2 linked regions of the Homo sapiens genome follow. The protein of the gene in region 1 purifies or fractionates together with the protein of each later gene. This does not show direct contact. Each region holds a gene or a part of one and is shown on either strand. Other genes may lie near its edges. The genes, in order: PLBD2 and WDHD1.

The links.
Region 2: the proteins of PLBD2 (region 1) and WDHD1 fractionate together in Homo sapiens (co-fractionation; one large-scale study listed by BioGRID). This does not show direct contact.

The regions. Positions count from the first base shown.
Region 1 is NC_000012.12:113,371,896-113,375,710, forward strand, and holds part of PLBD2 (putative phospholipase B-like 2 isoform 1 precursor), read left to right. Parts: intron 1-753; coding exon 754-912; intron 913-2,578; coding exon 2,579-2,679; intron 2,680-2,897; coding exon 2,898-3,112; intron 3,113-3,815. UniProt on the Homo sapiens protein: Putative phospholipase.
Region 2 is NC_000014.9:55,024,281-55,028,892, forward strand, and holds the start of WDHD1 (WD repeat and HMG-box DNA-binding protein 1), read right to left. Parts: upstream 2,820-4,612; 5' UTR 2,748-2,819; intron 2,524-2,747; 5' UTR 2,508-2,523; coding exon 2,431-2,507; intron 1-2,430. UniProt on the Homo sapiens protein: Core replisome component that acts as a replication initiation factor. Binds directly to the CMG complex and functions as a hub to recruit additional proteins to the replication fork.

The sequences.
Region 1 (3,815 bases):
TCTTGTGGGTGGTAATATGTCTTGTCCCCAGCTGTGTCCCCTGATCCCAGCCCAGAACCTGGTATAGGACAGGCAGTGGGGAAATGCTGTGGAAGTCATGGAGGCCTGCATGGAGGAGGTGGTGTCTTAGTGGGCCTTGAAGGATGAACAGGATTTGGATGTGTTTCAGTGAGATGGTGATGGAGCAGCAGTCATGAAGCCATCAATCCTGAGGCAGTGAGTGCTGCCACTCACTCACGGGGATGACCAGGCTACGTGGTCTTTTGTCCCCCAGCAGGCGAGCCTGGACTCATGCAGGTGGCATCTCGGTGGGAAGTGCAGAGGGCCGCATGAAGTCTGGGTGAAACTGCCACGGCATTCTCTTGCCCAGTGGAATCAGAAGGGTTATTGCTGTTTTGTTCCCTGCTATGTCCTCAGTGCTTAAAAAGGAACATAATAGGTGCTCAAAAAAAAAACATTCATGGATTGACTAACTGAACACACATATAGATTGGGGTCCCCAGTAGCAGAGGTGGTGCCATCAGTTATAGGCTTTGCAGGCTAAAGGCTCTCAGGGCAACTTCCAGGGGCCTGGGGTCCCTATCCGGGGCAGAGCTGGGCAGGGAGAGGAGCCTCCAGGGAGAGGACAGCATGAGCAAGGACTCAGGTGGCCACACCAGCAGCCTCCGCTCTGGGGCAGCCTGGGTGGGGGGCTCTCAGGGAAGAGAGCACCCCAGCTGCCCGCCCTTGCCTCGCCCACCCCCTACCCCACAGCTCATCTACATGCACTGGATGAACACGGTGGTGAATTACTGCGGCCCCTTCGAGTATGAAGTCGGCTACTGCGAGAGGCTGAAGAGCTTCCTGGAGGCCAACCTAGAGTGGATGCAGGAAGAGATGGAGTCAAACCCAGACTCACCTTACTGGCACCAGGTGAGTCCTGCTGCCACGCTTGGTGGGAGGGGGCTTCCAGCTGGCCAGCCATCCTGTCTCCTGTTGTTCTGGCCAGCCTTGTGGCATGTCCAGCTGCCCAGCCGCCTCTGTTTCCATCATCATCTCCATCCCTCCTAGCCGACCTGCCACTCATCCATCTGCCCAGTCTCCATCTGTCCACTTGCTGGAACTCCAGCCATCCATCCTAGCCTACCTACAGTTAAATAATGACCAAAAACAAATAGTCAGTTGTTAGCATGGTGTTTTGCTTGTGTACATATGGTGTTTTGCTTGCATACAAGGGAGGTTGCTTGGTAGATTGATTACATTGGATGCAAGTAAAGACAGTATGAGAAAGAGGGGAAGGGGAAAACCAGAAAATCCCAGAAAGTCTGGACACAGTGAATTTTGTTTTCCTTTCCTTGAGTGAGCTGCTGATCAGCTGGCAGCTAACGGAGAGGCCCAGGCAGGCTCTCTGCCTTTGGGCCACTGGCTAGGCCATCATTGGAAAAGTCAGTTATTTATGGATTCCCCGGAAAATGTCAGGTGTTTGCTGTGAGGTACACACGGCAGGCTGTCTCTGTAAAGTGGCCATCAATGCCTGTTAGCATGTCTGCCTAGCCTAGGCCAGGTTTGCACCATTTTCCTCTGTAGAACTTCTCACTGTTTACCCACCCACCTACTCACACCCTAAGACAGACTCTTCTACCACCAACCCATCTACCTGTCCATTCCACACATCCACCACCCATCCATCCACCCATCCATCCATCCATGCATCCATCCATCCATTCATCCACCTACCCACCCACTCACCCATCTACCTATCCATCTATTCACTCACTCATCCATCCGTTCATTTACCCACCCATTTACCCACCCATCCATCCATCCTCCATCCACCCATCCTTCCACCCACCCACCCACTCACTCATCTACATATCTATCCATTCGCTCACTCACTCATCCATCCATCCATTTACCCACCCATTCATCTATCCATTCACACACCCGTCCATCCATCATCCATCCATCTACCCATACATACATACATCCACCCACCCACCCACCCACTCATCCACCCATCCATTCACCTCCCACCTGTCAACCCACTCACCCACCCATACATACATACATCCACCCACCCATCCATTCATCCAACAACCCACCCATCCATCTTGCAGATGCTTACTAAGTGCCCAGTGTGCCTGCCCAAGGCCCCATGAGGGACACACTGATGATACTTTATGGCTATAGGATGTTGAGGCAAAATGATGACAATGGGGAGAAGTCAGATGCATGAGACAGGTGCCCGAGGCAGCAATACAGTCAGTACTGAACTCAGAACAGGAGCAGTTGGCAAGAGGCCAGGCCAGGCTGGGAGGCGTCCTAGAAGAGATGGCTTTTGAACTAGGCTCTTAAGTGGGGCTGATTTGGGGTTAACACAGGGCAGAGACATAGAGTTAATTCATTGAAAGCAGGAGAGTGCTCAGCATGGAGGGGTGGGTGGTAGTTTGGGGGAGTCAAGGCTGGCTGGAGTCTGGAGGGTACCCCCGGGCCTCCTGCTCTGTCTGAACCCCCAGGCCAGAGCCCGTCCCGTTGAAGGAGAAGGTGTGAGCCTGGAGGAGAGGCCTCACCCTCCCTCTGCCCCCGCCCCCTCCCCTAGGTGCGGCTGACCCTCCTGCAGCTGAAAGGCCTGGAGGACAGCTACGAAGGCCGTGTGAGCTTCCCAGCTGGGAAGTTCACCATCAAACCCTTGGGGTTCCTGTAAGTGCCACCCCCAGAGTGAACAGGGTGGGAAGAAGGGCCACACACTCATAGTCGGACAGACCTGGGTTCCAGCATCAACCTTGCCACTCCCTGGCTCTGTGGCCTTGGAACAGTCAGCTGACTTCCCAGAGCCTCAGCTTTCTCCTCTGCAAAATGAGTACATAACAGCACTCACAGCAGGCGTGGTAACCCTCTGATGCCCTGGCCCTCCTCAGCCTGCTGCAGCTCTCTGGGGACCTGGAAGACCTGGAGCTGGCCCTGAACAAGACCAAGATCAAACCTTCTCTGGGCTCTGGCTCCTGTTCTGCCCTCATCAAGCTGCTCCCTGGCCAGAGTGACCTCCTGGTTGCCCACAACACCTGGAACAACTACCAGCACATGCTGCGTGTCATCAAGAAGTACTGGCTCCAGTTCCGGGAAGGCCCCTGGGGTAGGTGGGTGTGGGTGTGTCTGGGGGATGAGCAGGTGGGTGGGCACACACGTGGGGAGTGGTCCTAGGAGGTTTGGGCCTTGGAAACCCTCCCAACACACGGAGTCACTGCAGGGATATTCCAAGAGTTCATTTTGGTTTTGTTTTTTTCTTTTTGAGTTGGGGTCTTGCTCTGTTGCCCAGGCTGGAGTACAGTGGCACAGTCATGGCTCACTGTAGCCTTGACTTCCCAGGCTCAGATTATCCTCCTGCCTCAGCCTCCCAAGTATCTGGAACTACAAATGTGTACCACCACACTCAGCTAATTTGTTTATTTTTTTATTTTTAAGAGATGGAGTCTCACTATGTTGCCCAGGCTTGTCTCAAACTCCTGGGCTCAAGTGATCCTCCTGACTTGGCCTCCCAAAGTGCTGTGATTACTTATGTGAGCCACCACGCCTAGCCAGTTCATCTTGTTTTACATGTTTATTGCCTTTTTTATTTTACCTATTGCTGCTTAACCAGTTACCCCAAAATTTAAAACAACAACAGCTTAAATAACCGCTATTTATTTTTTGCTCCTGCCTCTATGGGTCAGCTAGGTGGTTTTGGTTTTCTGGGCTGGGCCAGGCTGATCTTGGCTAGGCTCACTGATGCATCAGCAGTCTGCTGGCAGGTCAGCTGGGGTGGGATGGCTGGAATGGGATGGCCTCTTCTCCTGTCT
Region 2 (4,612 bases), on another chromosome or scaffold:
CACATCCAAACGCAAACTCAATCTCCACCCACAGCTCTACCTCTGAAATACGCCCTTCTTCAAGTGTTCCTGTTATTTGCAAGTGGAAGCATCACTTTCTCAACCGTAACATTCAGAAATGTAGACGTTATCCCTGTTGCCTCTTTCTCCATCCTTAATATCTGATCCATCCTGTTGACTTTATCTTTTTAAATATTTCCTGAATGTTTACTCTTTTCTACACACCCATGTTTACTCTAGTCCAAGCTTCTATCACACTTACCCAAACTTGTGGGGAAAAGCAAGAGAGATCAGATTGTTACTGTGTCTGTGTAGAAAGAAGTAGACATAAGAGACTCCATTTTGTTATGTACTAAGAAAAATTCTTCTGCCTTGAGATTCTGTTAATCTATAACCTTACCCCCAACCCCGTGCTCTCTGAAACGTGTGCTGTGTCAACTCAGAGTTAAATGGATTAAGGGCGGTGCAAGATGTGCTTTGTTAAACAGATGCTTGAAGGCAGCATGCTCCTTAAGAGTCATCACCACTCCCTAATCTCAAGTACCCAGGGACACAAAAACTGCGGAAGGCCGCAGGGACCTCTGCCTAGGAAAGCCAGGTATTGTCCAAGGTTTCTCCCCATGTGATAGTCTGAAATATGGCCTCGTGGGAAGGGAAAGACCTGACCGTCCCGTAAAGGGTCTGTGCTGAGGAGGATTAGTAAAAGAGGAAGGAATGCCTCTTGCAGTTGAGACAAGAGGAAGGCATCTGTCTCCTGCCTGTCCCTGGGCAATGGAATGTCTCGGTATAAAACCCGATTGTATGCTCCATCTACTGAGATAGGGAAAAACCGCCTTAGGGCTGGAGGTGGGACCTGCGGGCAGCAATACTGCTTTGTAAAGCATTGAGATGTTTATGTGTATGCATATCTAAAAGCACAGCGCTTAATCCTTTACATTGTCTATGATGCAAAGACCTTTGTTCACGTGTTTGTCTGCTGACCCTCTCCCCACAATTGTCTTGTGACCCTGACACATCCCCCTCTTCGAGAAACACCCACAAATGATGAATAAATACTAAGGGAACTCAGAGGCTGGCGGGATCCTCCATATGCTGAACGCTGGTTCCCCGGGTCCCCTTATTTCTTTCTCTATACTTAGTCTCTGTGTCTTTTTCTTTCCTAAGTCTCTCGTTCCACCTTACGAGAAACACCCACAAGTGTGGAGGGGCAACCCGCCCCTACACAAACTAATACAGGTATCTTCTAACAGTCTTTCTGCATCCATGAGTGCTCCTTTTCCAATTCATCCTCCATGCATTTTCTCAAAAACAAACCTGATCACATCTCTCTGCTTCAAGCCTTTAATACCTTCTCAGTGCTTTTAGGATAAAACGAGATTCCTTAATAAAGTCCAGAAGGTCTTGGATAGGACATCCATTGCCTAACTTCACAGATTCATCTCTCACTAAACTCTGCATCACTCTCCACATTTTAGTAAGGCTAGTTTTCCTTCAGTTCTTTGAGCATACCATGATCCCTGGCCCCATTGGGCCTTTACACACAGTATTGCCTCTGCTTACTATGCCAACATCACCACCCCACCGCCACCACCACTCATCTCTTTATACTGCTTAATGCCTGCTCCGTCTTCAGATGGCGTCTCAAGAAACACTTGTCCAAAGAAGCCTTCCCTGACTCCTTTAACTAGATGAGCTTCTCCTCATACATGTTTATCACTGCACATATTACTTGTTTCTAAATACACATTTATTTTTGTGATTAATTTGTGTTCAATGCCTGTCAATCCAAAAAGACCTTAAGCTCAAAGGAGGAAAAGACTGTGTCTGGTTCGCTCTATTCTATCTGTAGTCCCCAGCAAAAGAGACACACAAGTATTTTTTCAATGAATCAATCAACATAGAAGCGACAGTGGAAGCCGTGCAATCGAGCAGTAGTGCGTAAGAATGGGACTTGGAAAGATAAAAGGGACCAGAATAACCGTAGGAAAATATTATAGTTTAGGAATCAGAGGAAAAAATTGTTTTAAGCCGTCAAAAAGTTAAAAAAAAATAAGCAAAAAGGGAAATAGCATCACTAAAGGCATGGAAGGATATCATTCCAAACAGAACAGGCCACTGAATTTGACAAGTAGGCAGTAACTAGTGATCTGACAAAATTAATAATGTAAGATGCAGGGAAGGGGAAAATATATGGAGAGAAGCTCGCATCTTTCCAACTCCTCTGGAAGTACGATTATAACTTTGTCGATATACTACAACTACCATGACGGCCCGAATCAAACAATAATCTAAAGAAATATGTGTGCCATTTTAGATTTCAACATTATTCCTCTATCCGCATGAGTCATTTTTAGCTGACTGCACATATAAAGTTTAAGGATAAATGTTTTAACATTTGCACCTAAAACGTTGTTTCTCAAAGAACCTTACCTCCCAGAATCATCAAAACAGACCTCCGTGTGTCCCTCTGTATGCCCATATCTCATTGGCTTCCGTGTGGCAGGCATGTTTTCCTTTACCTATCTGAAAATGTTTTATAAAAGCCAGTCTTATTATTTCAAAAGAGAAAAGCAGCGAGGCTAGGGATAGGAAGAGAGCTTAGTCTCCTCTAGGGCCCGTTCTCCGCAGCCCGGTTTCCCCCACCCGAGTGACACCAGCGGGATAAGGCAGAGGGTCTGTCAGACAATAAGCCGGAAAGGGAACACGCATCTCCTTGGTGGACGCGGGCAGCCGGAGTGGGGACTCACCCGGGTGACCGAGCCTCCGCCACTGAGGATCCACAAGAGCTGCTTCCCGCGCTTCGGCTCGCTCACCACACTGCGCCTGCGCCGACCCGCCCACGCCCAGCGCAGGTCCCGACAGAGGTCGCCGGGTGGTGGCGTCAGCTGCGGCGCCCTCCGCGTGGAAATTAGCCGGTTGCCCGGGCAAATCAGGGAGGAAGGGAGGGAGCTGAACACGGAAGTGGTGGCGGCGCCCAGGGAACCGGCGGAGGCGATGACCGTGACGGCTGGGTTGGGACCGGAACGCCGAAGCGGGGTTGGGGGTGGCAGAAAAGCATCTGCTTTGTAAGACCTACACGAGGTGCAGGAGTGGTTGGGCCTCCCCTCTCCACTTAAGCAAGCGCCCAGACTGATGGCGATGGTGATGGCAGCAGTTACTCGCACAACCCCAGTTAAGCTGCGCTCCGGGAGGTGAGTGGGGGAAGGGTGGCCGCTGCCTGGCCTCGCAGGCCGGGGTCTTGTTCCTGCCCTCCAGGCTCTCCTCCCAGGAAACAATATCCGGATCCCTAAAAGGATCCGGTCTCTTTCTTGGGGCCCAGTTAGCAGACAGATCTTTGAGCATCTTCTCTGGAAAAGAAGGCGAGATCTTCTAGAGCCTCTAATCTTGGCATCCTTCGTGCCCTCACCTTGTCGCTTCTGTAGAGATAAAGAAGGAATGACTTAATTTCTGTTCCGGTTGGTTCTCTTGGTACCTGAAGGTATAATTAATTAATGCTCAATTAATGCTTATTCTTTGCGACTCTATATATCCGTTATGAAGAAAGTAACTTGTGTTCTCTATTCAGATCCCACCTAAAGTTTACTGAAGTGAATATTTATAACCAAAAGAAGAGTTATAACTTAGTAGCCTTGAGCACTTACATTTGATCCATGCAATATCTGCTAAAGTCTTGGCCACTAAGTTTAAGTTTATGCTTTTCTTGTATCTTCATTCTCCATATTGGTACAGCAGCCTGTGATGAAAACCTTCAGAATGATATTCTTTCATTTGTACTTATCTTTGAGAATTTTTCTGCGTTTTTGTGATACCTTCCAGTATCAATCACATTTATTTTATTACCTGAGACGTTTTTCTGTTGAAGAGGTTTCCCTATTGTTTTTTTCAATCTAGTTCCATTGTGAAAAGTTGCAAACACACAGGCAAACCGTCGTGTTCTTACCGTGGGTGGCATTGTGTGAGGCGTTGTTTTTAGTACTAGAGCTCCAGATAGCCTTGCTAGACGCTGAGGTTTGTATATGAATGAAGAGGAAGAATGATTGGCTTAAAAACAACTTGGGATTTGTGGAAAAATAACCCACTGTTGATCTCCCGAAAGAGCAGTGGTACCAGAGATGATGCTTTCTGAGTGACCTAATTTTTTTTTTTTGGAGATCATTTGTTTTTTGGATAGACTGGCTTATAAATTTTTTCGTTCAAGTAACAATATCATTGGCTAGAGTACATAGAGTTCAAGATGAACTCTCATAATATTCGTCTCTATGTTGAATAAAGCGTGGTGAGATTTCTGGTTAGTACTATTCAGAGCTCAGCATAAGAAGAATCTGCAAATTGGAACAAGTTATAGCTACAAAATGCCTTCACTATAATATCTGTAATACCCATGAGACTATGATTGATGTCCACACATCTGTCATTTTCTCTTATCAATCAAGCCATTTGATTCATAGGTTAAAGAACAATTTTCTTTGCAGATTTTGCATGTATGGTAAAAGCTTGAGCCTCCGAGTTTAACAGTCCTGGGTTTTAATTCTAACTGACACATTGTGTGACCTTGAATATGTTCCTTTACTGAAAATCGAATTCCTCATCTCTAAAATGGAGATGACACCTA